2 linked regions of the Homo sapiens genome follow. The protein of the gene in region 2 interacts with the protein of the main gene of each other region in a biochemical or structural test. Each region holds a gene or a part of one and is shown on either strand. Other genes may lie near its edges. The genes, in order: SCN8A and FGF14.

What was found.
Region 1: the proteins of FGF14 (region 2) and SCN8A form a complex in vitro, tested with the Homo sapiens proteins (2 studies listed by BioGRID).

What each region holds. Positions count from the first base shown.
Region 1 is NC_000012.12:51,752,656-51,769,232, reverse strand, and holds part of SCN8A (sodium channel protein type 8 subunit alpha), read right to left. Parts: intron 6,731-16,577; coding exon 6,557-6,730; intron 3,563-6,556; coding exon 3,206-3,562; intron 369-3,205; coding exon 1-368. UniProt on the Homo sapiens protein: Pore-forming subunit of a voltage-gated sodium channel complex assuming opened or closed conformations in response to the voltage difference across membranes and through which sodium ions selectively pass along their electrochemical gradient.
Region 2 is NC_000013.11:101,717,946-101,734,522, forward strand, and holds part of FGF14 (fibroblast growth factor 14), read right to left. Parts: intron 8,866-16,577; coding exon 8,667-8,865; intron 5,023-8,666; coding exon 4,886-5,022; 3' UTR 1-4,885. UniProt on the Homo sapiens protein: Probably involved in nervous system development and function.

The sequences.
Region 1 (16,577 bases), on a different chromosome or scaffold from region 2:
GGGTTGTTGATGAAGGACATGTGGTCCTCATCAATGATGTACTTCTCCACGCTGCTGCCAATGCCGCTGGTTGTGCCATTGCCATTCTTCTGGAAGTCACCATTCCGGTGGATGTCTGCACCGGTGTGATTGGCGATACAGTTGGCCTTCTTTTCATACAACTCATCCAGAGGCTTCACCTCATCAGCCTCACGCTGCTTAAAGTGGGCCTGCATGAAGGCGTGCACCTTTAGTTTGGTCCAGGCCACACCCTTCTTGATACGGATCACTGAGATCTGGAGGTTGTTCATTTCCCCATCGTCATCTGTGGCAGCCAGGTTGTCTGCACTGAAGGAGCTCAGGAGCAAGGCCAGAAACAGGTTCAGCACCTATGCCAGTAGCATTGGAAAAAAGGAACAAATGCAGAAAAGTTATCCATCGAACTCAGGGTTGCAAACTGGAAGCCAATGGACTTCACGTGACAGACTCAAAGAGGCTCTGTTGTGTTGTGTTTGGCCCACGTAGTATTTTAATGCTCATGTTACCAGGTGGGAATGTGTTTGGTTTTGGTTGTAATACAAGGAGTTTAGCACCTCTTTTCTTGGGTCTTTTATAGTTTTACATACATATATATGTACCCGAAAATATATTACTTCTCTTATAATCAGAAAAAACAAAGGCTGTATCCATTTTGGAAGGACATTTCCCCAAAATAAAAAGGTGAATATACATTACTGGGGAGGGTCACAAAGTGTACAGATGCCACATATTCATGAGCAGAGTTTGAGAGGACCCACGTCAGAAAAAAAAATGAGGCTTGAAGTGCCATCCTTTCATACAAAAAACCAAGAAGGTAGAACTGAAATACACTTCATGTCATCATATTTTAAGAACAAATTTTGTTTTCCTAACATTTATAAAAATAAAATCGCTTTAGCAAGACAGTGATGGTGACTTTTATATTTTTTTGCATAGCCAAATGTCAAGCCATCAGATACAAGCTTTATTTATTTTTGTTTTAATCTCCTATTTTACTACATTGAACATTAAGGTTAATTAATTTATTTTTATTAAGACTTACTTTTTAGGAGTGGGAGAGGTGCTCACTTCTTGATTTACACTTGGTCCTTACTTTGTCATACTTGGGAAGAAGAGTAAGGCATACATTTTAGGAGGAGATAACAGTCATGTGCAGAGTGGGAGGGTGGAAACAATAAATGAACTATAAGTGTTCGGATTATCTGCACCATTTGTAGAGTTAAAAAGGAATATGGTTGGTAAAATGCGGGTGAGTTGGAGAGGGCTTTGAAGGCCAGGCTGAGGGATCTGAATTTTATTTAATTAGATCCACTACTGGTTCTTGAGTAAAGGAGTCACAGATGATGACAGAGATTTGAAAGAGTCATTCAGACTAACTACATACAGAGGGGAAGGGCAGAAGTTAGGAGGCTGTTACATGCATGAATTGATAAGGGTCTGGATTAGGCTACAGAAATCCCAAATCTTAGCATGCATTAGAATCTCAGGGAGTGAGGGGTGTGGATGTTTGTTAAAAATATTTCCTTAGCCTACTCTAAAGATATTTGGATTCAGTAGATTTGGTATACAGCCTGGGACTTGGCCTTTTTTTGTGAGTGAAACTTGTGTAATTATGATGCAGGTGGTCTTGAGACCACATTTTTATAAAGTACTGAATGAATTATAGAAATGCAAAGGAAGGGGCAGATCTTAGATACTATGAAGAAAGATATCCACAGAAATACTATGAAGAAAGATGCATTTAAGACACATCAGATATTTGCTGGGAGTGGAGAGAAAAGAGACAGAAAATACTCCAAAGTTATAGGTTCCTAGAAACTAGATGGGCAGAAGGACTACTGAGCAAAGGGGAACCTGAAAAGTGTCATCAGGGGGTAGTGGTAACAGCTGATATTTATCAAGTGCTCAGGTATCTGGAGACAGCCATGGGGAGATGTCTTTGAGACAAATAAGAACAGGAGAGTGAAGAAAGGGTGGCAAAGTCAGGGCTTGAAAATGTTGATCATGCTACATACCGGGAAGCCATTGTTATAGTCACTGAAGTAGTGAGAAGACTAGAGGGATTAGGACTGAGGGAAAGGTGGCTGGGAATGGAGAATAGGAAGAATTAAACATTACAGTAGCTATTTTTTTTGTAGGTCAAATGGAAGAACAGAATAGTTGTAGCTGGTTCAGAGGCTGGTGAGTAGGAGCCTTTTACTGTCATGCTTCTCTGTGGCAGAAAAAGGAAGAGAACTAATGTGGATGAGCATGTTAAGGGACAGATAAGCTTGTCTTCTTCCAGTCCTCTTTGCCCTACACTTGCAGGTGGGATTAGGGGCCTGATCTGTAAGATAGTCCTTTCTCAAACTTTAGTGTACTTTTGAGTCACACAAGGATCTTGTTAAAAATGCAGATTCTGATTCAGTAGTTCTGATTTGGGGCCTAGAATTCTGCATTTCTAACACACTCTCCAGTGATCTTGTTGCTGCTAGTCCTCAGATCACACTTTAAGAAGCAAGGTGTTAAGATCTGTTGGTGACTCTTCTAAAGACAGAGGTAGAAGAGAGCAGGTGGACAGATCAAAGTAAAGCAATAAAGTGATTTGTCATTTATATAAATTAAATAAAACTCTAAGATGGTTTAGAGCAGTGGCTCTCAATGGAGGGCAATTTTGCCCCCCAGGGACATCTGGCAATGTCTGCAGACATTTTTGGTTGTCACAGCTCTCAGGATGCTACTGGCATCTAGTGGGTAGAGGCCAGGAGGGACGCTGCTAAACCCTACAATGCACACGACAGCCCACAACAAAGAATTATCCAGCCCAAGATGTCAATAGCACCACAGATGAGAAATTGTCGTTAAGAAAAAGGAAGGCTTCTGTAGGCGAACGGGCACAGACTTTAAAGTCTAGGTTCAAATACAAGCCCTATATTTATTTGGGAAAGTCACTTAATTTTGCTGAGTTTGCTTTCCTAACTCTAGGAAAAGGGTTGACAAGTTGTGGGGGTCATGACTAAGTAGGCACTCTGTAAGTATCTCTCTCCTCTCCTTCATTTGTACCTTAGGGTTTCTGGGCCAAGAAAGAATAAAAATCAACAAACATGACGGGTAGTAGAAGGACTAAGCAGTAGAAGGACTTGGGCTTCTGGGCCAGGGGTAGAATATTCAGGGTGTAGAACAAAAATATCTACAAATTAGTACTAACCACCAAGTTGCCAATCACCATGACCATCATAAAGACAATGAGGCACATGGCCTGGCCTGCCACTTCCATGCAGTCCCACATGGTCTCAATCCACTCCCCGCACAACACTCGAAAGACAATGAGGAAGGAATGGAAAAAGTCATGCATATGCCAGCGAGGGAGTTCACAGTCCTGGTTGATCTTGCAGACACACTCTTTGTAGCTTTTTCCAAAGAGTTGCATCCCCACCACGGCAAAGATGAAGACAATAATGGCCAGCACCAGTGTCAGGTTGCCCAGGGCACCCACTGAATTTCCAATAATCTTGATTAGCATGTTCAGGGTGGGCCAGGATTTGGCCAATTTGAAGACTCGGAGCTAAGGAAAAAAAAAACCCAAACAAAAAAATAAATGATACTCAATCAATTTTCTCACCACATGGCTAAAATAAAAACATAAAATTAGGAAGATCAGATTAAATATATTGAGCACCCTTGGAAAATTCCCAGGACTGTCTAACAGTGTCTCAGACTAAATGGGGAGAAACTGAGACATAAATAAGGGAAAACTGATTAATTTCAGAGTAGCTGAAAAAATTGTAACTAGAAGCCAGGAATACTGCCTTAGTCCCTTACTTTAGATCTGAGTCAGTCTGCTTTTTGAAAACCCACATATGAACATATCCCTTTCCTACTAATTTTCCCTTGACTTCTCACAGGACAAGTGAAATAAAATGTGATTTGTAGGAAACCAAAAGACTAGTATGGGAAGGACAGTTTAAAAAAAAATCCATCTCCTTAAAAAAGCAAACATTAAAAAATTCTAAATACCTATTTTGCTTGCCAATAAATAATCAATGGCTGATTAAAAAAAAAACCGTTGTGATATGCTTGGAATAACTTGGAGGAAAAGCACAACTCTCAAACAGGGGCAGTTCCACATACATCAGTCATCTTATGAAAAGAGCCTATACTGGCCAGGTGCAGTGGCTCATGCCTGTAATCCTAGCATTTGGGAGGCTGAGGTAGGCAGATGACTTGAGGCCAGGAGTTCGAGACCAGCCTGGCCAACATGGTGAAATGCCGTCTCTAATAAAAAATACAAAAATTAGCCAAGTGTGGTGGTGCAGGCCTGTAATCCCAGCTACTTGGGAGGCTGAGGCATGACAATCACTTGAATCTGGGAGGTGGAGGTTGAGGTGAGCCGAGATCACACCACTGCACTTCAACCTGGACAGCAGAATGAGACTATGTCTAAGAAAAAAAAAAAAAAGAAAAGAGCCTATACTGTTATTCAGAGGACAGAACTTTTAGTACCTGTCAATCATGAAATATCTATATTCTGTAATAAATAATCACAAGATCTTGGCTAACAGAGTGTTAATTATTTTTTATTTATTTATTTATTTATTTTTGAGACAGAGTCTCACTCTGCCGCCCAGGCTGGTGTGCAGCAACGTGATCTCGGCTCACTACAACCTCCGCCTCCTGGGTTCAAGTGATTCTCCTGCCTCAGCCTCCCAGGTAGCTGGGATTACAGGCGTGCACCACCATGCCCGGCTAATTTTTGTATTTTTAGTAGAGATGGGGTTTCACTATGTTGGCCAAGCTGGTCTCAAATTCCTGACCTCAAGTGATGCGCCCGCCTTGGCCTCCTGAAGTGCTGGGATTACAGGTGTAAGCCACTGTGCCTGGCCCAGCCTGAGAATTATAACGCATAAAGGCTATGGCAGTGTGGCCAATAAAATTATAATTATGAGATCATCATTAGATGTCATATGCTAACAAATAACTAACATAGAATGTAATAGGAATTTTGGTAGAAGGCAACAGCACAATTTTAACTTTTTTTTAATTGAAAAGTTATCTTATCAGAGAGTTCAATATTTACCAGGTGTTACCCTATATGCAGACATCTGGGCCACTCATATTGTTTTCAACAGAGTGGCTTTTTAATTTATTAAGAATATAAGTTCTAAGGCTACTCTCAATCCTTTCTTTTGTCACCTAGGTAATAACTATTCTCAAAAAAGTCCACTGTGGACTGGATCCTAACCAAAGAGTAGTAAACAGAGGTTTCAAAAATTTGGCAGTTATTTGTGACTTTGACTGAGTGAAATCTCTGTTTTACAAATAGTTTCACTTTTTCCAGTTCTTTCTTAGAACTGCTGAATATCTCAATGAAGAAACTTTAAACCTTTTCAGTTGCCAAGTGCTTATCTTCCCAATAGGGAGTGAAAAACCCAAGCCAATTCTAATGCCAGGGAAGCAGTAGTGACCTTTGTCTGAGTGGGATACCCCCAGGATAACTCAGTTTCTCGAGGAGTTAATCAAGATATCACTTACGCTTATGTTTACGGACAGCTGTTTTGAAGATACCATTAACTATTCTTTCAGAGTCATTTTAAGTCATTAAGAGTAACTTAAACACTAACTTCTTCAAATACATTAATACAAACTCCTTTTTAGCTAATGATAGAGAAAATAAAGCCAATGTTCAACAACTAATTTCAATATAATACAGATGCTCCTTGACTTATGATGGGGTTATGTCCCAATAAACCCATTTTAAGTTGAAACTGCTGTAAGTAAAAATGCATTTAATATACGTAACCTACTGAACATCACATCTTAGCCTAGCCTACCTTAAACATGTTCTGAACACTTACATTCGCCTACAGTTGGCCAAAATCATCTAACACAAAGCCCATTTTATAATAAAGTATTGAATATCTCATGTAATTTATTGAATACTATACTGAAAGTGAAAAACAGGACGGTTGTATGGGTACTCAAAGTATGGTTTCTACTGAACGTGCACTGCTTTTTTGCAGAATGTAAAGCGGAAAAATTATAAGTTGAGCCATCATAAGTTGGGAACCATCTGTATTTAAAAACCTTATTTTATTCTCATTTTTTGGAAGGGCTACCATGACAGAAGAAATGAAGAAAGTCATCTTTGAACAAGGAGAAATTCTTGCCATTTCAAGGAGATGTTCAGATTTAAAAAAATAGATTCACTAGCAAACCCAAATTAGACCTCACACTGGGCCTTGGGGGAGTTCATTTTCTTCATCTATTGTCTTGGGTCTTATTTTTCACTTATCATCTTAGACATCTCTTAGATTAAGCAGCATTTTCTAAAGAGCTTCTTAAAATTGATTTCTGTTTGCTTATTGATTTTTAACAACTAACTTCCATATCAGGTATTTTAGGAAAGTTTTTAGTATTTTAGTAGCTAAGCCAAATAACTGGAATTGGGAGTAAAATACAGCTAATATATTTTTTAAATCATCAAATTAATTTATGCAGAACTCTTTCTAGTAGCTGCAAGATAGGAAATGTTAAAAGAAATTGGAGAAATATGGAATACCAATCGGAAAGATCGCAGCACTGAAAGCCCCTCCACGTCTGCTAGACTCAGTTCCATTAAACTGAGGGAGACAATAAATCCGTCAAAAATGTTCCAACCTTCTTGGAAATAATAGTAGGGATCCATGGCTATGAGCTTCAGGAACATTTCCGCTGTGAAAATTCCAGTGAAAACCTAAATAGGGGGATGCAGGGGGTAAGAAAAATAAATAGTAGAAAGAGAATGCCTTTATCATTATTTTTGAAAACAACATGTCCAAGAAACCTCAAGAGTTAACCTTAGTTAAATTCTGCATCTGAAGATATCAATACCTGGATGTCTCATGAGCACCCCACCTGATGCAGGAAAATCTTATTCTCCTCTTGAATGAAGTCCCCAGCCCCAAAGTTCCCATCTTTGTTGCCAGAACCACTCAATTTAAACTCTTCAAGAGTGCAGTTGAGAAAATATGCTAAGCAATGGCAATACTACACCAGGCAACTCCTTTCAAAGGGTCAGCAGTCATTTTGAATGTATATAATACTTGTGATGTTTGCTTAAAAAAATCACTCGCGTTATGATTAGAAAAATAAAGTATTAATGCTAATTTGACATTATATCTTACCAAACCCAGACATTTGCCACAAGGTGTAAAAGCATACAATATTGCCAAAATGTGCAAAATATAGGAAATAATATCTATAATCTCACCACCTTGCATACAACTATCATTTTCATGTATTTTCTTTCTGTTTTTTTTTTCAAATACACAGGTATTTTGACAGAGTTGGAAAATCATAGAATACATAATATCTTGGGTCTGATTTTTCACTTATCATTAAGTCTATCCATGTTGCTACACGGTTCTCCCAACTCTCACTCTTACTGCCTGTATAAAATTCTACTGGCGGCTGGGGATGATGGCTCACTCCTGTAATCCCAAAACTTCTGGTGGTCGAGGCAGGCAGATCACTTGAGTCCAGGAGTTTGAGACCAGCCTGGACAACATGGTGAAAACCCATCTCTACAAAAAATACAAAAATTAGTTGGGCGTGGTGGTGGGCGCCTATGGTACCAGGGACCAGGAGGCTGAGGTGAGAGAATCACTTGAGCCCGGGAGGCAGAGGTTGCAGTGAGCCAACCTGGAGGGCAGTGGATCATGCCACTGCACTCCAGCACAGGCGACACAGCAAGCCCTATCAAATAAATAAATAATAATAAATAAATAATAATAAATAAATAAATAAATAAATAGTGAATAAAATTCTATTGGGTAAATACATCCTCAAAGAATTTTCCTATTGTTGGAGACTTCGGTGCTTCCTTTTAATTTTTTTCAATAGGATAATCAATGACATAATAAATGTTTTAGATTTGTAGCTTATTGTGTGTAAAAATGACATCTTCCCTATGTTACCCATCTCCCATTTTTCTGCTGACAGAGTGCCTGCACTTCCCGATGACTTCCATATCCTGCAGGCATTAGGAGGTGATATGCAGGATGAAAGTCAAATCCCATGAATGCCGGTTTTGACAAAACCAATACCTTCATTCTAGGCTAACCATATAACAACAGACTCTTATTGAATATTATGTTTTTAGAGGAGAGGACTTATTTTTACAATAGATTTAAAACTGTCATAATATATTAGTACTTGTAACTACCTGTTTACCAAGTTTCCACATGAAACAGTTTAAGGAAAACTGAAGATATAGTCTGAGAACAAAATTAAAAATAGTAAAAAATACTTAGATTATAGATGCTGTTTGGAAATATACTGAATTAATAAACAGCAATAAAAAAACAGAATGATGACTAAAATACATCAAAATGGATAAGTGGCCTATAGGTTTTCGGTGTTCATATGCTTTTCTGTAGTTCCTCATGTTTCTAGATTGAAGATGCAATATTCTAAAATTGAAAAAAAAATTCCACAAAGAGATCCAGTTAAGTAAAATCAAAGTTCATAATACAAGTTAAGCATCTATAGATGGAACATCCCTCTGAGTGAGTTCAGGGAAAGTACAGACAGCTCATCAAATCCTGACATACATTTCACCCTTAGTGTAAACCCATCGGAGGTTTCTCCACATAGAAATGCTAGCCTGCCTAACACACACTAAGTAGAGACTTGATTTGTTATCCCACTGGTTCCTGGTAAACACACAGGAAGTGCTCATGAAGAAGCACTGGCTGATTGACCATGGAATATCTATACTGTGGGAACTCTGGTTCCTAAGGGAAATCAACAATGACATAGTTATGTGGTGTTGCCTATCACCAGGATGAATGGCCCCAGGCATTAGAAATTGTCTGTGACAGAGGTCAGCCACCATGTTGCTTCAACACATGGTATGTTGCCATCAGTTGGGTGTGTGTCAAAATACACCTATAACTATTAGCTGTGTGAAGGAATTGCTTTTTTAAAAATTGAGAAGAGCAGATTTAAGGTTATCCTATGATGCTCTTGTTTGCACTGTGATATGCTTCTCAAAGAGGAGAAAGGGAAGAATTACATGCAGTGTATCAGCAATTATATATAAGTGTCTGCTATGGTTTGAATGTGTCCCCCAAAGTTCATGTATTAAAACTTAATCCCCAATGCAACACTGTTGGGCAGCAAGGTCTGATAAGAGGTGATTAGGTCATGTGAGGACTCTGCCATCATGAGTGGACTGATGTTATTGCAGGAGTGGGCTGGTTATCTCAATAGTGGGCTTTGTGATAAAAGCAAGTTTGGCCCTCTCTTGCTCTCTCACTGTTAGCTTCTTCTGCCCTTTGGCCTTCTACCATGGGATGATGTAGCACAAAGGTCTTCACCAGGTACTGGCACCATGCCCTTGTACTTTTCAGTCTCTAGAAATGTCAGCCAAATAAATTTCTGTCTGTTATAAATTACCCAGTCTATGGTACTCTGTTGTGGTAACATTACTTAGACAGTGTTGTTCTCCTGAATGTCATCAAATATTCACTTTAGAATTTATGTTCTTATGCAGCAGTTCTCAAAGGGTAGTTGAGGATCCTTAGAGTCCCTAAGGCCCTCTCAGGAAGCACATGGTCCGCTCTTTTCCAACTTCAGAAGTACCCCCCATCTGTGGTTTTGCTTTCTGCAGTTGCAGTTAGCTACCATCAACTACAGTCCAAAAATATTAAATAAAAAATTCTAGAAAAACAATTCATAAGTTTTAAATTGCATACTGTTCTGAGTAGCATGATGAACTCTTGAGCTGTCCTGCTCTATCCTCCCAGGATGTGAATCATCCCTTTGTCCAGTGTATCCATGCTGTATAAACTACTTGCCCTTTAGCCACTTAGCAGCCATCTTGGTTATCAGATTCACAAAACCCAGTATGGTCATGCATTGCTTAATGATAGGGATAATGTGTTGTTGGCAATTTAGTCATTGTGTAAACATTAAAGAGTGTACTTACACAAACCTAGGCCTTATATATATATTTTCATTTATATATATATATTTTTTAATATGGAAAACCAAATGTCCCAGCACCTTTACTTAACATCAATCATTTCTCTTACTTGACCTGCAAGGCCAATATCAAATGGCATATAACAAGTTTTTATATATGTTCCATTATAATCTTATGGTATCACTGTCAGACATGCAGTCTGTCATTGACCAAAATGTTGTTATGTGGTACGTGGCTGTACATATACACACACGTATATATATATATACACACACACACACACATATACATACATACATGTATGTGTATATGTGTGTGTATGTGTGTGTGTATGGCTTGGTACTATCTGAGGTTTCAGGCATCCACTGGGGGCCTTGGAATGTATCCCCCTTGGATAAGAGAGGACTACTGTACATATCTGTGTGAGGCAAGCTTTTCTTCCTATACTTTAGCTAAAATAACATATCACAACAGACTGAATGTAGAAACAGAAAAAGAGAATCTAACTACCTTCTATTAAACCAGACATGAGGCCAGGCACGGTGGCTCACGCCTATAATCCCAGCACTTTGGAATGCCCAGGTGGGTGGATCACTTGAGGTCAGGAGTTCAAGACCAGCCTGGCCAACATGGTGAAACTCCATCTCTACTAAAAATACAAAAATTAGCCAGGCATGGTGGCGGGCACCTATAATCCCAGCTATTCTGGAGGCTGAGGCAGAAGAATCGCTTGAACCTGGGAGACGGAGGTTGCAGTGAGCCGAGATTGTGCCACTGCACTCCAGCCTGGGCGACAGAGTGAGACTCTGCCTCAAAAAACAAAACAAACAAACAAACAAACAAACCAGACATTAAAGAGACTTGCAAAATGTCGAACAATGCCATTCTTCCAGTTTTTCTTAAAAAATATAGTTTCCCCACACCAATATGTTATTTATGTTCATGTGTGATAGGTGTATTATTGTGATATTTATTTTACAGATAGGGTGTTGCTATGTTGTCCAGGATAGTCTTGAATTCTTGAGCTCAAGTGATCCTCCCATCTCAGCATCCTGAGTAGCTGGGATTATAGGGATGAGCTGCATGTCTGGTTAATTTTTTTATTTTTGTAGAGATGGGGTCTCGCTATGTTCTAGCCAGGCTAGAAAGCAATGGCTATTCACAGCCGTGTTCCTGGAGCACTTCGGCATCAAATTCCTGGCCTCAAGCCATGCTCCTGCCTCAGCCTCCCAAGTAGCTGGGACTCACCTAGCTATATTATTGTAATTCTTTAATTACAAAATGAATGTTTAGAAATTTTCTCAGTTTTAATTTCAAACATGATAAATATCAATAGACATAGCACTTTTATTTAAGAGTATAAAGGAGTCCTGATCTCCTCAGAATATTCTATAAAACAATGGTTCTCTATTCTCTATAAAATACTCTGAATTCACAGTCATCATATCTTTCTAGTTTGGGTTTTGTTGTGTTTTGTTTTTTGAGATAGGGTCTTGCTCTGTCACCCAGGCTGGAATGTAGTGGCATGATCATAGCTCACTGCAGCTTTGAAATTCTAGGCTCAAGTAATCCTCTCACCTCGGCCTCCCAAAGAGCTGGGATGACAGGCATGAGCCATGCCTAGTCTAGTTTGGACTAGCCTGTGGTCATATGCCTGATAACTTGTAATGCCAGGTCAACAAGTAAGGCCTATATAGTCCTAAGATTGGGGTATATTTCACTTTGGCGTCACTATGGGGTCTGGGGAGAAGTCACACACCTCCTTCAGCCCTCATTGCATTTGCAGAAAAAATTCAGCCTTATTTGAAAGTGACGAGCGTCTGGCATGCTCCTCTCTTTGTGCTCAGAAAAGGGCTTGTCAGCTCCTGTTCTGCAGTAGATCCTCGCCCAAAGTTAATCAAGTTCAATTTGATTAAAAGTTCTATGTGTACTGCAATGGAGACATGAAAAAAAAAATGTGACCATGAAAAATAATGGTTCCTTACGAACTCAGTCGCCAGAATGTAAGTAACTCATCCTGGTTTGCCACTTTTCACACCGAAAGTCCTGCATCCTGCATCTCCAGTTAGGGTGATCAACTCGTACCTGTTGACAAGGACTGTCCCAGTTTTAAAACTGCAAGGGCTTCCTCAGGCCTCTGCAAATTAAGGTGGTTGGTTACCCAACCAGGAGGGGACAGAACAATAACTAAAAATCATGTGACAAGTATTTAAAAAGAAGTATCCATATGGGGCTATAGAAGCACAGATGAAAGAAAAAATCTGAAAAGAATTCTTTTTAGCTGAAAATCTAGGTAACCTATAATTAAGAAATGATAACATTCATTTATGTTTGGTGAAGGAGGAAAATAACTTTCTGCTTTTTTGCTTTTGCTTAGAATCTGAGAACTTAAACTTATATGTCAGATTAAACCCTAGCTCTTCTTTCCATCCCCTTCCTCCTGAACCACTCAGTCCTGAAGGCTGTAGGTGGGCATGCCGGTAGAGGGAGGCTGCTGCCCAGTGCTGGAACCCCAGGAAGGGCACGGCCCAGCAAGGAGAGTCAGACATGGAGGGGAGCGAGGAGGTCCATGCAGGGCAGCAGGCTGGCATGGGCTGTCTGAGCCTGTGGGCCAAGGAGAGGCATCCGCTTTGGGCAACAGTCTAGGATGGGCAGTTGGAAGTGGTATGAGGCGTGGCTACCCCACATAGGTGTTGAGGCCCAAGTGTGGTGGGAGGACGTCCACACTTGAGGGGGTGGGGGACTTAGCAGAGAGAGTCAGAGCTTAAGTAAGGTAAAGATAGCATCTCCAGGAGAAGATCCCGGAGTGGGCTGAGGAGGGACTCCCTGCAGGGGAAGACTCACAAGGGGTGCCAGAGCCAGGTGAGCTGATGAGGGACTCATGTAGGGGAAGGCCTGATGTGGGGTGTCAGATCCCGAGTGGGGTGAGGAAAGTGTCCAAACAGGGAGGTGGACAGTGAGGGTGTGAGAGCTCATCAGGGTGAGGAGGATGTCGCCTAGTTTGGGATAAAGTCAATGGGCCAGGTGAGAACTTCCAGGAGTGTTCACACAGACAGATGGCAGCATGAGCAGGGTGACGAGGGGTGGCCTGGTGAGGGGTGTTAAGAGTCTGTGCAGGATAAACAGAGCTTCTATGTCAGGGGAGAGTCTGGTGTGGGGTGAGAAGGATGTCCATGCAGGCGAAGGCCTACTGTGAGGCATCGGGGTCTAAGCAGGGTGGGGCAAACCATGTGTGAGTTGGACTGGTGTGGGTTCCAAGCTGAGGAGTGTGAGCAGGTGTCCACATGGAGGACACGGCTCGGGTGCTGAAGGGGTGGGGGGCACCCAGAGCCTATACAGGGTGAGGAGGGTACCCATGCTATAAAAGGTAACAGTGGCTTTTTGATCAAATAAGTATACCAAAGATAGTGGCAACGAGGTTTCTTATTGTTGCAGGAGTTACAAATACAGAAAGGGAGAAAACTAGAAAGAATCTTGAAGTGTTGGATTAGAATTGGAAGTGACAGGATCAACTCATGGTTTGCAATATCCACGGCTAGCTCAATATAAATAGCTCATCATGTCCTAAGAGGGGCTGCATGCTGCTCCCATAGCAATATGCATACCTAGATCTCAGATCTCCACCTCTTCCTTTTTTTTTAGTTTTCTATTTTGTTTTAGAGATGGGGTCTCATTGTGTTGCTAAGGCTGGTCTCAAACTTTAAGCGATCCTCCTGCCTCAGCTGATACTCAGCCTAGATCTCTACTTCTAAATGCCATTTTTCCACTAAAAGACTCAGGGCTTCTTGAGAAATGGCTGATTCCAGCCCTGGGGCTGGAAAAACACGAAAGTATCCTGGAATACCTTGTGGTACCAGAAAGCCAGGAAGTGAAGAAGACATGTGAAAGGGATCAGAAGCCAGCTTGAAGGAATTTCCACTGGCCACATCAGAGGAAGTCTAAACATCAAATGGATTGTAACTCAGATAAAATAGAAAACCATTAATCCATACTGATATAAATAAAGGAAGAAATCAAAATCTGAATGAACAGGAAATTTAAATCGTTTCAAATGGTCTTCCTCACAAATACCTATTAAGTATACAGTAAGTCCTCACTTAATGTCCTCAATAGGTTCTTGAAAACAGCAACTTTAAGCCACATGATGTACTATATGCCATAGGAACTTAACTCTTGTTTATATCAACTGGCCTATGGTAAAACTGGTTTTGTTATACAGTATATCATTTAGCTTAAAGTCACAGTTTCCAAAAATCTAGAACCTATAGAGGATGTTAAGTGGGGACTTACTGTAAATGGAAAAAGCGTAACTTCACAGATGAAAAGCCTGGCAGACACCTCCTTAATCAAGTGATTAAATGAACGTCACCAGTAGTGGGACAAATGGAAGCTACATGCCAACTGGTAGATACAACGTGAAGAAGATAGTCTCACTTATCTGATATTCCTACCAAAATGCAGAACCTGCATCTAATCATAAGGAAGCATCAGACAAGCCCACATTGAGGGAATTCTACATAACAAATGACCTGTAGTCTTCAAAATGTCAAGACATGAAAGTCAAGGAAAGACTGAGGAACTCCTCCAGGCTGAAGAAAATTAGAGAGATATGATAGCTACATGTAATGGGGTAATCCTAAAACTGCATCCTTTTGTTACAGAGGATACCACTGGGATCACTGGCAAAACTTGAATAGGGCCTGAGAATTAGACCCTTAACTTAACTCACAATCAGGGCTATAGGAAAAGCCTCACATTCCAACCACAGGACAAGGTCATACTTTACTTCACAACATTGTAATGTATCAATGTTAATTTCCTGGTTTTGACAGTTATACTATGGTTATGTAGGAGAATGTACTTGTGTATAAAAAATACACACTATAAGCATTTGGGGGTGATAAGGCTATGTGATAAGGCTTTTATTGTAAAAAAAAAAAAAAAAGAAGTTTTTTGTACTGTACTTGAAACTTTCCTGTAAGATTCAGAATGTTTAAAAAGTCACCTCATAAACTTACTATTGTATTCAGTTAGTTGCAAAAAAGGCAGGAAAAGAATCATTACATTTATCTACTACATAACATAGAGGCTGTATAAGTCACACAGCTTCCCTGGGCTTCAATTTCCTCTATAAAACATGTGGATTGGATTGAATTATCTCTAAGGTTCTTCCTACTATTATTTTCTCTTTTGGGGAGGGTAGAAGAGGCAGGGATCTTCAATTTGCAGAAGACTGTTCTCATCTTTCTTTAAAAACATCTTTCTGTATGTCTACAGACAAAGACAACTTAACTCACAATTAGGGCTATAGGAAAAGCCTCACATTCCAACCACAGGACAAGGTCATACTTTATTTCACAAGTCAGTCTCATTTTTTTTCCATCCTCTTATTCTCAGGTTCAGTCAAAGCCTCTACCCAATTCTCCAAATCTTTGAAAATTCTCCTATTGAATTATACTAACACAGTTCCTAAGATTTATAAGATACTTTTAGCTATCCCAAAGACTTCCATATAGGTTCTCATTTTATCTTCCCAACCAGTGATGGCATGGTATTATCTTAACTTTACAGATGTGAAACATTTCTGGACAGAAATCAATGACTTATTTAAGGTTATACGATATCTAATAGGAATGAAAACCCAAATCTTCTGACTTCCAATTCTGTGTTCTTTCTGCCAATCTCAGCGCTCGTGTTGATTGGCAACAAAGTATATCTTTGAGTTTCTGGTATTGTCCAGAAAACACTCATGAGGTCCAGCACGTACCCAACTTCCTTATTTGGCATCTCCACTCAGTGAATAGACACTTAATATGTCCAAAACAGAACTCTTGATTTTATACGTCAAGCCAGTTCCTTTGCAGTCATTCCACTTTTCCCTCAGTTATTAAACCCCCACATCGAGGCACCATTCTTGATTTCTTTCCTTTTACCCTCACATCTAGTACAAAGTATGCTGGACTATATACTAAGCTCCCTCCCCACTGCTAATTGTACATTTACTTGCCGTTTGAAAACCCTTGCCACCTAAGAGCTTTCTTATTCTAGAACTTGGTTCTGGGTTGGCTTGTCTCATGGAGTTCCTGAATATTAGCTGTTGACCTTCTCTTATTTCCTCTTTTTTTACTGATGGTTCTGAGCAAAGTCTTCTGCATACTTACAATTCTAATTTAGATGTCATCCTAAATCTCTAAATTTTCATGAAAGGAAAAATAACATTATTTGCTAGCCTGGTCTGACTGGAGTTCTAGTGGGGATAGGTGAAAAAGCCTCTCAAAATCCCTTGAAAATCAAAGACTGGTTCTGTAAAAAGTAAGGAAAAGTAAAGATTTTGAGAAAAACAAAACTCTACAGGGAAAACAGAACCACCAACATCAACAATAAAAATTATCAAGACATATTTCTTGTTACTTAACTCTTGGCTACTAAAATCAAGCTTATATCTAAATGATATTGTTGACAGGGTTAAAATTCTGCTTGATGGCCAAGGTACTGTGTCAGCCAGTCACAGCATGTGCCCACTGACAGGCACCTTTCAGAGCCAGTCAGCAGACTTCTTGGACAGTCTGTGGGAGTGTCCCATTTCAAGACTCCGGGCATTCCACTGGACTGC
Region 2 (16,577 bases):
TAAGAAGAGTGTCAAAAATGTCCTCGGCATTTGTTTTCTCAGAAAAAGAATTTAGATATTGGAGAAATTATCATACCATAAAAAGTTCAAAATGTGATTCATCTAAAATTTTGGACAAAGATGAAAATATAGTCAGCTCTGTTCTAGTGTTCATTTAGTTAGAAACCATAGTACCGGAACTGTATTATAGTAGAAGTTAATGGTACCTAAACTCTAAGGAATGCTTTTTCTTTGAAAACAGAAATATTTTTACTTATTTCTGTCCACTATGTTTGTGTGTATGTGTGTGTTTGTGTGTGTATGTGTGGTTTTGATGCCAGCAATGCAAACACCAATATATCTATTAAGAAGTGATTGAATTTAGATTGGAAAAAATAAAATAGTTACATGTAAAGACATAAACTCTTTCCTTCTTAAATGTGATTTTCAACTCTATGATAGAAACTCCCTCTAAAAAACAAGCAGGGCAAGAACAAACTTACTTGTAATGGGTGAGAGAAAATAAGCAAATCTCATTGGCTCATTCCTGTTTTTAGGAAGTTGCAGTGGGATTAATGTCAATTGGAAGGGATGCAGCAAGTTTAGAGAAGGTGTTGGCACTAACGCTGCTTGTTTGGCAAATCATCATCACTGAGGTATTCCACCCAGAGACTTTTTCAAAAAAGTCAACTAAAGTGCTAAGTCATAAGAGGAGAGCCATTATACCCGTTGTCTTTCTGGGCTCCTTGAGTTTATCTGGATTCCAACAGCACTTGGAAAGTACCGCCCTCCACTACCTCAAATGCAAACACAATCTCTGCCAGTAGACATTGGAATTAGACTTAGTGAAAACCAGGAAAAAAAAAAAAAACTAAAATATAACTCAGCCTTAGTTTGCAGACTCAACTGTCAACACTTTGAAACCCTACTCCATATTCAAGAGAGTCAACAGGCCCTATGTCACATTGTAGGCTAAGAAACCTCAGCTATGACTACTATTTCACTCAAAGTAAGACCATGTACATCCTGGATTTTGATATGCCTGCATTTTGGAAAAAAAAATTGAGGATTTAGCCCAGTCGCTTTCCCTTGATATAGCCTTGTTCTGAATTAAAATGGAAAAAATATTTCAATTATTTTCATCTTGTTCTCAACTGGATGTTAGTCAATGTGGTCTCTTTTTGAATATGTATCAAATATTAATGATCCATAATATTAGGGAGATAATTTTAAATGAAGTGATACGTGTCTAACTTACTTAAAGAATAAGTTTTTGGTTTTTGCTTTTAAAGACAACCAAATCTGATATTGTTCATCCTGATAAAAATAACAACTTTTAGTGCTTAAAGCATTAATTAAGCAAGTGGCTAGGTATGATAAAGAACTTCTGCTTGCTCCCCAAGAGGCAAACTATTAGAAGAACTGGAGCGGGAGTCCTTTGGACCCATCGTGGATCTCTTTAAGCCACTGCTACCCAAAAACATTCAGGACAAGCAAACATTTAGAGCAAGAATCTCCAAATTCTTCAGGATTTGTAATGAAATGATGTTCAGTTCCATTTTGCTCTTTACATAGGGTGGAGAATTGTCATGTCTTCTCTAATTTTTCCAAGTAAAGTGGTAGCAAAATGTTTTAAAAAGCAATCTTATATTAGAAAACAAAAATGTTGTCACTTGAAATACCAAAACAACATTTCTGAGCGTTGTTGAGGGACTGGCAAAGCAATCAGCTACTATAACAAATCAGTAGAAATAACCCTCCCACACCAGATATGCATGCAGAAGGAATGGAGTATTATAGAGACTTGATACAATGGACATATGCACATGGAGGTACAAAACACACAGTCTAAATACAAATGAATTCCATCAGATTTACTATACGGAACATCAGTAGTGACAGATTGCACTTCTTACTTAATAACAGCAAACTTAATTTCTGAGGGGAAAAAAATGGCGAAGTCTTATCCCAAACAAATAGCAAGAGAGGTATCATCAAAGAGCTAAAATTTTCTTTGGCATGGTAAAGGGGGAAATTGAGTTTACCAACTTATTTACATGACATTTCTCTATATTGGTGAGTAATGCAATGCCATTTTGTTACATAAAGTTGTTTGATGTTTTTTAATATGCCTTCATATAAATATTTTATTCAATATGTTGTATTTGTGAATTTAACAAATGATATTAAACACAAACTACAATGCAGACAGACAAACTCTTTGTATGCAAATTAGCAATACATACCAACAGTTCTTGATACACAGGTACCTACTACATGCAGCTCATCATTGCTGTCCTCTTCCCATGCTACAGGTGAGACCAGACACAAAGTAAATGACCTAACTCAATTACAAATAACAAGGACCCCTCTGCAATATGTCTAAACATATATTAGAAGAAAGTATTTGACATCCTTCATAGGGATAAATGCCCTTATAGACACCCCATATATAAAACACAACAGAGATACACATTTACATAAATCTCAGTCATTTACAAAAATAAATCTTGTCTTAATTTAAACCAATAAACAGACTTGCAGGGGAAAAAGAAACCAGCAAGTAGGGCTAATTATCAGTAACAAATAGATGGGGGTGTTTGCTCTGTGTGTGTGTGTGTGTGTGTGTGTGTGTGTGTGTATATGTGTGTGTTTGTGTGAAGTGAAGTGTTGCTGCTGTAAGTAGTGTCCATAAGCCCATTTGACTGTATTACAAGTTAGTTAATTACTCATATAGTTGGCCACATATTATGGGATCTATGTTTTCTGAAAATAATTGGTTAATGGAAGTTATCTAATATATTTTAACTGTTCCTGTTAAAAACAATAGGCTTCAAGATGACATAACACCAAATCAAAAATGACCAAAGGAATCATTTTGTTTGTTAGATTTGTAATTTAGCATCATTGGCAATAAATCTACTCAAACGTTCTGCTAACTTTTTATTTATTCAAGTAGAATCCAATATGAAAATGAAATAAGCATAAACAAACAGTTAAATTTCTACTAAACCTTTAATCAGCTAAGCAGGCCAGAATTTTTTAATGCTGGGCAAGGGCTGTCATGAAGAAGATTTATGAAAGCAGTGACAAAATAATTTCCCAATAAATACAGTGCAGATGGGGAAAATGATGACTGGGTCATCCTCCCACATAGAAAGAATAACAAGAGGCCAGTACATTGATCCCACATATAATTTTCAATAAATGAGGTTCAGTTTGGTCTCAATGAACTCTTCTGAGAAGAAAACATTGAATTTTATTAGGTGTACACAGAGTTAACAAATAAATTCCCAAACAGTTTAGTATGAAACATTTTGAACCCCTTTAGATCCAATATTGAACATTTTGCATGGAATCTTCATTGTGTAGTCAACTGTTCCTGGCCTTTCTTGGTAGTTGTCTTCCCTAAGCTCAAACAAACAGTGTTAAACTAAAAAGGAAATTAAGAATGCAAAATAAAAGAAAATAAATGGAATGGACCAAAATCCTCATGGATGAATGTGTTGGTTTGCCTTTATTTTCATCTAGGATAATTCAACAGACTGTATTCTGAGATCATGGCAAGGCACCTCTAACCCAGCCACTGGGCAACATGAGCCCCAGATGCTGAGCTAGAGGCATGTACTGGTGAAATACACAGTACCGGACTCAGCATGCTGAGCTAAAAAAAATATTTTTCCTAATATGTCCAGTTTAAAAACTTGTCATTAAACACCAAAAATATTAAAGTCTAATTAATTTATAACTAACGTTTGCATTGCTGCTGCAGGAAAGAACACAACAGCCGTCTTGCCCATGCTCTGCTGAGTATGAGGGGAACGCAGCCAGAAACGGGGATGGCGTTAAGTTTGGTTCATTAAAAACAGGACGGAGTATATCTGAAATGGATTTAGGTAGCGCAATTCTTGTAGGTTATAATTACTGATTTTCCTTTTTTTTTTTTTCCAAATAATGAGAATTAATAGATGAAAAATGAACCTTAATCAGGCCTACAAGGCCTACAGAAATCTTTGGACCCACTTTCTCAAAAACCAGTGGGTCTTGCTCGCTGGGCAAGGCAAATGTTACCATTACCAGTAAGCTTGTGATATGTATAAAACACACACACACAAAGAAACTAGAGGGGGATGTCAAACACATATCATAGAGAGCTTCCCTGGATTGTGTTTGAGCCATTTCCCACCCAGGCAATGCCGACCTTGGGAGCACAGTATCTGCTACTGGACAGAGCGTATATGTGTGTTTAATCGATAGTGTGAGCCAGAGACAACAATCTTTCTTAATCTTTCTTTATAGATGCAATTTGTAATAATAGGTTTAGAAGGCTTCCTGATTCCCTGATTGCTCTCCGACCTAAGCCAACTGCAACATTTAAGATTTAGAGGAACAAAATCCCTGCAAAAGGTCACAGACAGTGGAGCGAGCAGCCCTGTAAAAATGGGAAGAAGAGAAATCCGTAATAGCACAGGTTTACAGCGTCTAACTAGAAATTACTCAATATTATTTGTGTGCTACAAAATTGAACTTAAACACATAGATTTCGCTGAAACAGGACTCAAAAAGGATTATGGGTAGCTGTCAGCAGGCAAGGTATCGAGTGTACTTGTGAAGTATGTCATTCACATGAAGTGTCACAGTCACAGAAAAGATATTAAAAAGGCATTCCATATCTGGTAGGGCATTCCATGGTCTGAGTTTAGCTGGTTATCCAGGTGTCTTCTTGTTGTGGGGGGTGCAACAGGTTGAGATTTATCCACTTGCAACAGAGAAGTTCGGAGACAGCAAAGAATAAGCATTAGCTTACTTCCTGCTGCTCTTCAGCCACGGAGCAGGAATGTCTGGTGAGGATAAATCACTCAACTGTGCTCAGGACGAATAAGTCACAACACCTGTGAGGATCTGGCTATGTTGTCTTACTCTTGTTGACTGGTTTGCCTCCATTCATTATTGCAGACGCACTTGTGCTTTTACTTGGCGTCACCCCAGGCTTCGGGACCGTTTCCCCAACATCATGCAAAGATGGTTCTCGGTACATGGCAACTAGTGATGGGAAGAAAGGAGGAGGAAAAGCAAACATTGCTTGGTTAGGTGTGAGAATGGTCCATCCATACCTGCATAGACCACTGCAGTTTGCCCATTTCTGTTTTCCCTGAAGTAAAGCAATTCCATTGAGACAGAATTCCTGTTGTAAAGCAATCATTTCCAGCCCACAGAGGACATTACTCCCTTCACATTCTCTGGTCTGTATACCTAAAATATGTATATGAGTGTGCATGGATTTTTGTCTAGGACAGCAGGTTTAAATGGGAGCTATGGCCTCTTTGTGGGTCCATGATGTAAAACACACACACACACACACACTATAGGAGAATGACAGGCATTTAACTTAATTCTCAAAAAAAGAAAACTCAGACATCCCTTCCACTGCACATTAATATCAACACATGAACTTCTCATTCACTTCAATCAATCTTTGTGAGCTGCGGTATTTACATCCTAGAACATTAAATTACTTTCTTTCATGTGGTTCAAAAGCAACATAGTCATACTAGTGTCAACTTCAAAGCTACACAAAATAATAACAAATAACTCTCTTCCCATAAGCCAGAGCCTTCAGGAGATTATCATTTCAATGTTCATTTCCTACAATCATGGAAAAAGACCCTTGGGCAGCAGAAGGCAACTCATTTTCTGCTATGTTATTAAAAATCTAATAATTGACATGATACAGGGGCAGAAAACAGAATGGCAAGACAGCAACTGAAACTACCTGAATAAACTCTGAGGATTTATCTAAATAGTGTCTGGTGGCATAATCATAGTAGTTCACGTGGCTTTTTAGAAAATGATTTCTGGAAGTCCTGAGAAAGGACATATAAGAGTGACTGATGGTTGGGGAAAACTAGGGATTAAAGTCATCTGCCATCAGAAATACAAGTGCATTAGAGCTGCCCAAACTGCTTTTTAGGTTTTTGAAAGTTTAAGGTATTTTACGAAGAGCCCTTAGATTTAGTTAAGATGAACTACCATATGCATTCCCTATGTTCAAGGGGGTAGAATGTGGCCTTTAGTATCAATGCATCACGTGAGTTTTCATCAGCACACATACTTGAAAGTGCAAATGTACATAAGGTTTCTATTAAATTACTTGCTAAGGTAGCAAAAGGAACTAATGCGTATCCTGAAAGCACATTCCAATCCCTCACTCCTATTACTAATTAAATTAGCAGACAAAAGCATGAAGCATTGACCTTGATTTTCTATGTAGTGAAGTTGTATCGTCCAACAATGATAGACTGGATTAAGCAAATGTGGCACATATACACCATGGAATACTATGCAGCCATAAAAAATGATGAGTTCATGGACATGGATGAAGCTGGAAACCATCATTCTCAGCAAACTATCTCAAGGACAAAAAACCAAACACCACATGTTCTCACTCATAGGTGGGAACTGAACAATGAGAACACTTGGACACAGGAAGGGGAACATCACACACACGGGCCTGTTGTGGGGTGGGGGGATGGGGGAGGGATAGCATTAGGAGATATACCTAATGTAAATGACAAGTTACTGGGTGCAGCACACCAACATGGCACATGTATACATATGTCACAAACCTGCACGTTGTGCACATGTACCCTAGAACTTAAAGTATAATAATAAAATATATATATATATATATATATATATATATATATAAAACAAAGATATGAATGCCCTAGAGTACCAATAATTAACCAGGTACTTAATTTGTCAAACATTTCCAATAACATTATTTATATTCGGTATGGGTTTTGAAAGTTTGAAATTAATTTTCCTCTATCAAGTAAACAATGTGATAATCTCTGTCGTTATAGTACCTACCCCCTTAACTGTTTTTAGAGTACTTCTGCTAATTTTTTGAAAACATAAAAAGTATTATTTCTCTCTTTCTCATATATATATATGTATATATACACACAAAACACTCATATACACATAACAAATACATGAGTGAAATACCAAGTATCATTCTATACCACATCATTGTTGTCTCAGATATTTTCTATGAGATATGCAAAATAACTGGTTCCCAAATTTTACCTCGGTTAAATGACATAACAGCCCTTTTGGGTTTTGTTACATTTATGCAGCTAAAGGGTAAGGTTCTAAAAATCTAGTCAATTCTTAACTATTTACAAAACATAAAATGAGTGAAAAGAGATAAAGCACGGTGGCAAATAAACAATGGTCTTATTAGAGCTTCTGTGGGCTTATTTTTTAATTTTTTATTTGCATTTAAATATAGGTGAGTCCAATGTTATCAAAATTTATTTAAAACAATGAAAGTGTATCATGGATGTGTTTTTTTTGGGAGGAACAGGGAAATCCTCTAACTTCTTTCTACTCTAATCATCCTTATGATCCACCATATACTGAGAATAATTCACTCATATTTCAGACTCTGGAATAATCTGTCTTTTCCTGTATAGGCCCTGGTAGCTAACTGTTTGGGTTTCAATAAATTGTTCTACAGAAAAATATAATTAAGAGTGACACTAAGTCAACATCATTGAAATTACAGAAGTAGTATTAGCCAACAAGAGCGATTTTCTGAATTTAGGCAAATTGAAAATTATACACTCACAGATGATGAAGAATTGACTGTTCAAATTTTTAAATTATTTTATTTCAATATAGAGAATATGCATTATGAAAACAATATGCATTTTCTCGTGATGGCTAAGCCTTTCCTGTAGGAATAAAACACAAAAAGAAAATTGAGCTGTCCAAGCTAGCTTAAAATATTTACTGAGTTATTGTAGATCTGATCTTCTGCAAAAGAGTAAACAAAAGAACTTGAATAGAAACACATGTGAATATCCTAAAATCAAATATTTTTGTAATTCTCAAATGTTACATAGATAAAAGTAAATGACACTTTTGGCAGAATCATTAATGAGAGAGGTGCAGATGTTGTTGATTAATTAAAAAAACTTTGTAGCCTGCTCTTTGGGTATCTGATTGGAGTAAATGTGAAATTTCCATTCATCCGGCATGGATGACTGGATATACCCCTTCCTGCACACAAATGAATGTGGATAAATTATTTTAGTAAAAGAAGTAATGCTACAAATGTATACAGTGAAGAATTACACAATTTGAAAGCAGATGTGTAATATCAGCAAGTTCTTTAAGAGTCAAGCTATTATCTCTTATTTTTCTGTAATTATAATAATCCACAAGTAGGTAATTACTTTCACCTAGATAATATCAAAATGGAAAATACTTTTGATTCCACGCTCAAAACTTATTTTTTCTAATATACTTATTATCTTTTTCTAATATACTTATCATCGCAGATTTGTATCATTACAGATTTAAAATTGTTTTAACTTAATTAATTTAAATTATCTAAGGGTTAGAGTGGTTGTAGCAGTGAGGATTTGAGCCTTTGGAGGTGGCAGAGAAGAAATTTTTCCTGGTACACATACATACACAAATATAGTAAAGTGTATAAGGGGCACAAATTCTAAATCAATAACTTAAGTAGGCACCTGTGCAACCATCACCTAGATCAAAATAAATGACATTTCCAGCACTTTGTGAAGGTTTCTTAGAGCCATGGTAGACCTATCAATTTGAAAAATAAAATATGTAATAAGTCTATGTAATAATAATGCATGCATAATACTCACCTTCCAATGGCTTGGGTAGAAAATGAGCTGCTGGTTTGGTTTTCTTTACTCTGTTCCCTTTCATAGCTTGCCCTTCCTTATTTAATCCCAAAAACCAGGCTCTACCAGATTCCTGTTGTCTGTACAACATGGATGAGTAGATTACATAATAATTTTCAAAAACAGATTCTTTAAACTTGCATTCAGGGGTAAAAAGTTCCTGTGGAGAGAAAATGAAACAAAAGTTAGAGGAAGGAACTTGATCTTCACTGTACATTCTACTCATTCTCTAGAAAGTTTCCCAGCATGGTGAAAGAGTGCTTTGGCATGGAGGACCGGATATACCCCTTCCTGCGCACAGTAATTGTCTATACATTTTTAAAATATACAATAAATTGAGAAGAACCTACTATTATTGAAAATATATAGAAGCAAAAGTATATCATAAGAAAACAATACATGAGCAAACTAAAGATTTAACTTAAACAGAAGACAATTCAACCAGAGTATAATCAGAAAGGGAGCATTAAAGTAGCATCAGATATTCACAATAAAGTGAACCAAATAAAATACACATTTCAGATATTTTATAATCCATTTTACATGTTTCCATAGGAACAGTGATATAATACTCTACAGTTGCCAGTTGCTCCTTGGATCACTGAAATCACAGGGTGATACATTTTACTTACAAAGGAACAAACTGAAACCTCAAACTAAAACTTAGACAATCAGCTGGCTTACTTGCCAGCCACTAGAGCTATTGTATAACCAGATGAGGTTAGGTGTCATGTTAGCTGGTCATAGTGACAGTAGCTGAAAATAATTCAATGGGGCTCCAAAGGTTTGAGTCCCGTTGGAACTCTTGAAGATAAACATCAAAAGCTGCTCCAACTGAAAAACCACACAGCATTTTTGGAAAGCATACAGTTTGTTAAATACTATTATGCTCAATGCCATGGTCTGCATTAATTGATGAGCAGCACAAAGCTTACTACTTTACAATTATTATTAATGTCAGAAATATTCACAGATGATTTTTATATACTTCTTACTTTGGGATGAATAATAATGAATATAATCCCATGCCAAATAAATAAAAAATTAATAAGGGTACAATCTACATATGCATTTTTGATAGCCCTCTATTAAAAATAAATTTGAAGTTCAACCTGTCTGGTTATAGACCATGAAAGACACCTAGCTAGTTTTAAATAGGTCCAACACTGTGCTATTCTATATGTATATAAAATATAGATGGAAAATAGATCCTTACTGTCCTTGATCTTTTTGAAAATACCACTGGACTAAAAAATATACACAAAGTTTTCATTTTTCTTTAATAGATTTTATTATTGCAGAAAATAATAATTTTTGGTTTTCTTCTAAAAATGTTGTATACCTGTTCTGAAAAATATTCCTTAGGGGCTAAAAACTAAAACATTAAGGGCTTGACTTTATGCTAACTGTAATTAGGAATGTGACCTAATGTCATGTAGAAATTTCCTTTCAATATTCCCCATAAAAGTGTGAATTATCAAATGCTGTCTCATGCAGGAGACAATTTATTCAGTGTGCTGAATAACTTTCATTCACTGAGAGCTAATAGTTTTCCAAGGGGAACAGCCTTTGTTAGTGGCAGATGCTTTTCAAGACAAAGATGACAGTTACAGTGATCAATTTGATGAAATCACAATAGCCAAATGACAGGTTTAGCCCCCTCCTGGAGCAACTTATGTAGATCTTTATTTCTTCTTGATGATGCTACCTCAGATTAGAATAAGATCCCATCCAAATAAATGTTCTGGCTTTCTACTGAGTTCTGCATCTCCATATATCCTCCAATTAGTTTTCTCACTAATAAATGAGAGTCCACTGAGTCAATGTCCAGGCCATGCGCCCGAAAAAAAAGATTGATAAAACAGTACATGTTCATGCATTTATTGTGAGTAAAACAAAATGGAATGCTATAAATCTGGCTTCTCCCCAAGAGACTAATAAATATATTGGTTGAAACTATACTTTCTCAAACAAAAGGATTAGACTTTGGCATTTCACTTGTCTTTTTACTGAGACAGGGCAGGGCACCTAAGCATATTGCTTACCAGTTAAAAACCTATCTCAAAATCAGCTATGAGTGACATGCTGAGAGCTGACTTAGTGGGTCACTTAGTGGAAGTCAGGGGAATCTGGCTCTGCCTCCTGGGCTTCGGGTGTCTCTGCCCAGAACCTGGCTCACTGATGCTCATCCTGTTGCTACAAACACCAGAAACGTAGGTCCACAGGATTCTCTTCTGATCGTCACTGCCATAATGTCCAAAACATGAATGGTGCTTGCAACACCATCAGCAACTTAGGGATGTATTGTCTCCATTATGAATTCACTGTGTTGAATATGGAAGAGAAGAAGATGCTTGATGTAGAGGAAGTAATTTATTCTCGGTGGATACCTTAAGGATTCTGACACTATATCTTTTCAGATGAAATGTTCACATCATAGGACTCCAAAGAAGTCAATTCCACAGCACCTTTCTGTGAGCTGTGCCCGTGACTTCACAGATAGGTGATTCTTTCTGTAGAACTATTGCCTTCAGTTGCTTGTGATAGTGGAGACTGGTATATTTTCAGCCTTCTTATTTGTGGCTAAATAATTAATGCACACACAAATGCACATGTTACATTCAAAGATGTTATTGTCTAATACATTTTCTCAAAACTTTTTGAGAACTTAATCTGTTCCTCCAATATTGAAGTCTCAAATAATCCCAGCATTTCCTATAGAACCGATAGAACCAATGGAAGTTGAGGTTAGTTGCTATTTGATGTCATAAGTGATATACTTTCAACACGTAAATGGGAAGCAATGGAGCAGATAAACATCACCTGTGGAGGCAGACAGTAGGATTCAACCCTGACCCCACTAGCTGTGTGTTCTTGGGGAAATTACTCAATCTCTCTGGGCTTCAGTTTCCTCATCTCTAAAATGAGGACAAAAATCATAGGGCAATAAGGTAGTTGGGATGATTGAGTGAATAAATACGTATTACACATTTAGAAGAGAACTTGGTATACAGTGAGCACTCAATAATTATTCTTTAAAAGTTTCTCATTATTTGTAGTAAAAAATATATCCTGATCAGTTATTTCAATTCTGTGAAAATCTCACCAAAAGTCAGCTACATAATTAGTCAATGAAAACCATTTTACACAAAATATTGGGTTCAGCATGAAATATACCAAGATAAATAATAGTCATTCATTTCACTGAAAAATGACAGAACAATATAATATTTGTTATGAGTGACTTACCTATAAAATACTAGAGTGATTATAGGGAGAATAAATGGTATTGTGAAAGGCAAGAGGTGGGAAATGGCCTGGTACATTTGGAGAACTGTAAATAGTTCATCACTGAGATACACGCTTTGTGGGACAGAAGTGGAGAATGTTGTAGATGGGAAGATAGGTTTGAGAAACATAATAAAGGGTCTTGAAAACTCTAATAAACAAATTAGATGTCTTATAAGTGAGAGGAAGACATGTTGAATTCCTGAATATGCAAGGGAATAATAATAGGGCCTGATTCGTATGTTATAAATACAAATCTGTTGTCAGTGTGGAGGATGGTTTCGAAAAGTTAAGAACATGTCGTACTGATGTTTTCAACCCTAATCTCTCACAAAATGAACCTGAAAGTTGTTTGTAGCACATGAGTATATGTGTGTTCACGTTAATAGTTAGTATTAATATTACAAATAGAGAACCAGAACACACAAAGTAAGGGGAGAAATAATATCAGGATTATGACACACTGACTTCTGAACTTTCTGGTAGCCAGGACAAAAAGAGAAAGACTATAATGTTACAAAAATTATTCAAGAAAGAAAATATTTTCCTTTTTGAAAATGAAAAGTTTCTTGGCATGAATTTTTAAAAGGTATTTCCTTATAAGGGACCTAAAAAACTGACATTGACCAACATAAACAAAAATGCTCTTGAGAGTAATTGCACAGTCATACTTTGTGCTTCAATCCTGCAGTATGCTTTAGGAAAACAGATTGCATTGAAAATGTCCAATAGGTAGAACTACTTAAAGTCCAGTAGGTGGAAATAATTGTAATTGATGAGATCTCCAGGGATAATGTGCACAGCACGGGCCACAAACTCAAATGCCTCTAATGACCAGGTAGATACAGGAGTGAGGAAAGCTGGCATGATCATGGCACCGTAATGAGGATAAATGGCCTCTGACTCAGGCTCTGTGGTGAGGAGATGAAGACAGTGGTAGAAGCAATGATTTTTTTAAAAAAGCAGCCGTCCCTCACATGGTTCTCCTGTGAAAATAAAAACCTTAGATCTTTAGAAGATCTGATTTTTCAAAGGAAGTAAGAAATGTAAGTTTCTACAGATAATCTCCTTTTAACATTGGCAACTATTTCTTAGTTTTTGTTTTTCAACCTTGAGTGGGTCAAGGGGCCACAGGGAAGCCTGTGAGCCTTCAGTATGAGACCTCCAATGTACAGCAGCAAGAACCAAAGAAAGAGGAGCCCTACTTTGCTTCTCAAGGCAGTCCTAGTCTAATTGATAGTTGCTATACAGTTGGATAATACAATTATTGTGCCAGTGAAACACTCTCTAAAACTGGCAGTGATAATATGAAAATGCTTATTTAAATTTAGGCTTAAATATAAACTCTTTGAATCTGCCAAAACGAGATCGATAAGGAGTTTGATGTATCTTTTTCTCACCTTGCCTCCTTGACTATGTTTAGAACCATCACCCCCACCACAACAAAATCAACAACAGATGAGTTCCAGCAGAAGCTTGAATATTAATTTGCACCACTGCCAAACTAAATCATCAAGTCATAGGATAGAAAAATGCAATAATTAAACAGAAATGTTATATCTTTTTTATGTTGTGGTTGTTTTTGAAATGAAAGCACCATCTGTGGTGTACTTATTATCTTAACAGTAGCAGCAGAATTCCTCTTCTGAGGGAAATGCCTTTGTTTAGGAAAATACCGTGATGGGCCATTTGCTTGTACAAAGAGAGACTTCTGGTTGGAAGGAGCTCTCCTTCCATAACTCATCAGGAATGAATAACTCAGATAATCTGGCAAAACCATAACCTCAGAATTGAAAGTGACCTTGAGAATCTAATCCAGTGGTCCAGCAAACTGACTCTCAGGCCAAACACAATTTTCACCTGTTTTTGTAAATAAGGTTTCATTGGAAAACAGGCACTTTCCTTTGTTTATATATTGTCTGTGTCTGCATTTACACTACAAATTTCAGAGCTGCGTGGTCGAGAAAGATCTTTATGGCTCACAAAACCTAAAATGTTTACTATATGGTCCTTTGCCAAAAGTTTGCCAATCCTGATCTAAGGTAAAATTTGAGGACTTTCCAACCTAAGTAATTGAGGGAAGAGTTATTAACCCAGTAGCAAATTCCTAAGGAGCTAAGCATTCCCAAGTTAAACTTGGATTGCACATATTTTCACATATGCAAACATATACAACTTGAAGGAGGAGCTTCACCAGTGTTTCATCCTTGGAAAAGCCTTTATGTTCTGTTACGAGCCCAGGCTTCCACTAGGAATTAGCCCACCAACTCCACTTAGTTACTATGTCACCTTGGTGTTATCTAAGACTAAATGAAAATTATGTTTTTGTTAATGTCTTCAAGTTTGCCCACCATCACCATTTAAGGGAAAACTATAAAAGGGGCATTCTGAACACAATCATAACATTTTTTAGAATACTAGGCAATTCCAAAATAACTTAAAAAGAGGAAATAGAGAAACGATATTAGACACAAGTAGCAAATAGCACATAATAAATACATGATAAATAATAGCTACTAATATATTACTAACCTCTATTTTCCAGAGTCATCCACGAATTCAGTCCCCTCCCAGTAACAGCTCAATAATGACCCTCATCCTGGACTCCTTAGGAGTATCTCTCCTCAGAGGAGGCTTGAACTTAAAGGAGGAGGAGGTCTCCAAGTCCAAGTTCTTACTTTGAGTATAATATTAAACAACAAAGGGTTCTTTCAAATATCAAATAAGATAAGAGAGGTGAAAAATAATTTATGGACTAGAAATTAAGTTGTAATCTGTAGTTATATTTACAACGAGAAATTGAGTTTGAAAGTGCAACTCAAATGTTGTTATCATGAAGAAGGCTGTTATTTAATTATTCTTAATAGATTTCAACTTAATTACACATACCTTTAGATGGGAATTCCCATATTCAGATCCACTTAATCTGAATTCTCAATTTTTTTTCTTCCCTTTTCTACATTTTGGAGATTTGATCTACTAGAGTTTATCTGAGGTCAGCAGAGATTTATCCCAATCTCTTTCATCTTTTACAGTTTTAAAATCAATTGTATCCTTTAATGCTACTATTCTGACACTAACCACTTCTTTAAAACAAAAAGGCAGAGTACTCTTAAGATTACTTATAAAGAAAAGAATATCGTGAACTTTTAGAAAGATTTTACAGTCCTGAAGTTGAAACAAAATATTTGTAGTTAACACTCAAAAGCAGAAAATTAAGTTGACTAATGTACTTTATTTATATAAAGTTGTATGTAGTCAAAAATTTTTAATATTGGGCTGTGACTAATGCCCACAGGAGAAAAAAAATTAGTTAATTGGTTGTGTGTGTACCTCAAATAAAAGCATAATTATGTACGAGTTTAAGAGACAACTTTTGGCAGTGCACGGTGGTCACTCCTGTAATCCCAGCACTTTGGGAGGCCAAGGCAGGCGATCATGAGGTCAAAAGATGGAGACCATCCTGGCCAACATGGTGAAACCCCATCTCTAATAAAAATACCAAAATTAGCTGGGCGTAGTGGCACATGCCTGTAGTCCCAGCTACTCGGGAGGCTGAGGCAGGAGACTCACTTGAACCTGGGAGGCAGAGGTTGCAGTGAGCGGAGATTGTGCCACTGCACTCCAGCCTGGCGACAGAACAAGACTCCATCAAAAAAAAAAAAAAAAAAAAAGAGAGAGAGGAGAGAGAGACAACTTTTATCCTGATTACAGGACCCAGGAAATTTAAGTATATTTCTACCAACAAAGGAGTCTCGACAGCAACTTATATTTATAGGGCCAAATTCTGTTACTTAAGTAGTTTCCCGGGAAACAAAATGGAAAATTAAAGCATTTTTTGGCAGTAAAAATATTTCTCAACATTTAGAGATTAACACATCATTAGATACAATAATTTATTTATTAAATATTATATGTTACTTTGATTCATTATATTTATTACATGTTTTATAACATTTAATAACTAAATATCAAATAATTTGATTTGAATTTTCACTTATTCAATATAAATATGTATTATATATTTTAAAATATGTATTTTATATGTGTGCATAATTTTTAAATATACATAAGGAGATGTCTGTGTGTGTGTGTGCATGTGTGTGTGTGTGCACGTACATTTAAAATGTGGTATTCAGGGACCAGTAGCAACTTCATCACCTGGAAGCTTGTTAGAAATGCAGAATCCCAGGCCCACCTCAGACCTACAGAATCAGGATTTGCATTTTAACGAGGTCCCAGGTGACTGTATGCACATTAAAATTGGGACATATTGGCATATATTCTCATTACTACATAGAACAAATCAATTAATGATCACATTTTAAGAGCTGTCAATTAAATTGACATTAGTCATAAGCTTGCTACCATTTCTTAACATTAGTACAAAATTTATAAAAGCAAGAAAATAGAAACAAAAATCTGTGGTATTTACAATACGTCTATAAGTAAGATATTTTAAGATTATAAATAAAAATGTGTCCCAACTTGTTCTACAATGTAAAATCTTTCTCTCTGGAATATAGACATGTATAAACTCCTAAAATAATAATCCTTGTAAGATGAACAGATGGCACCAGTGCT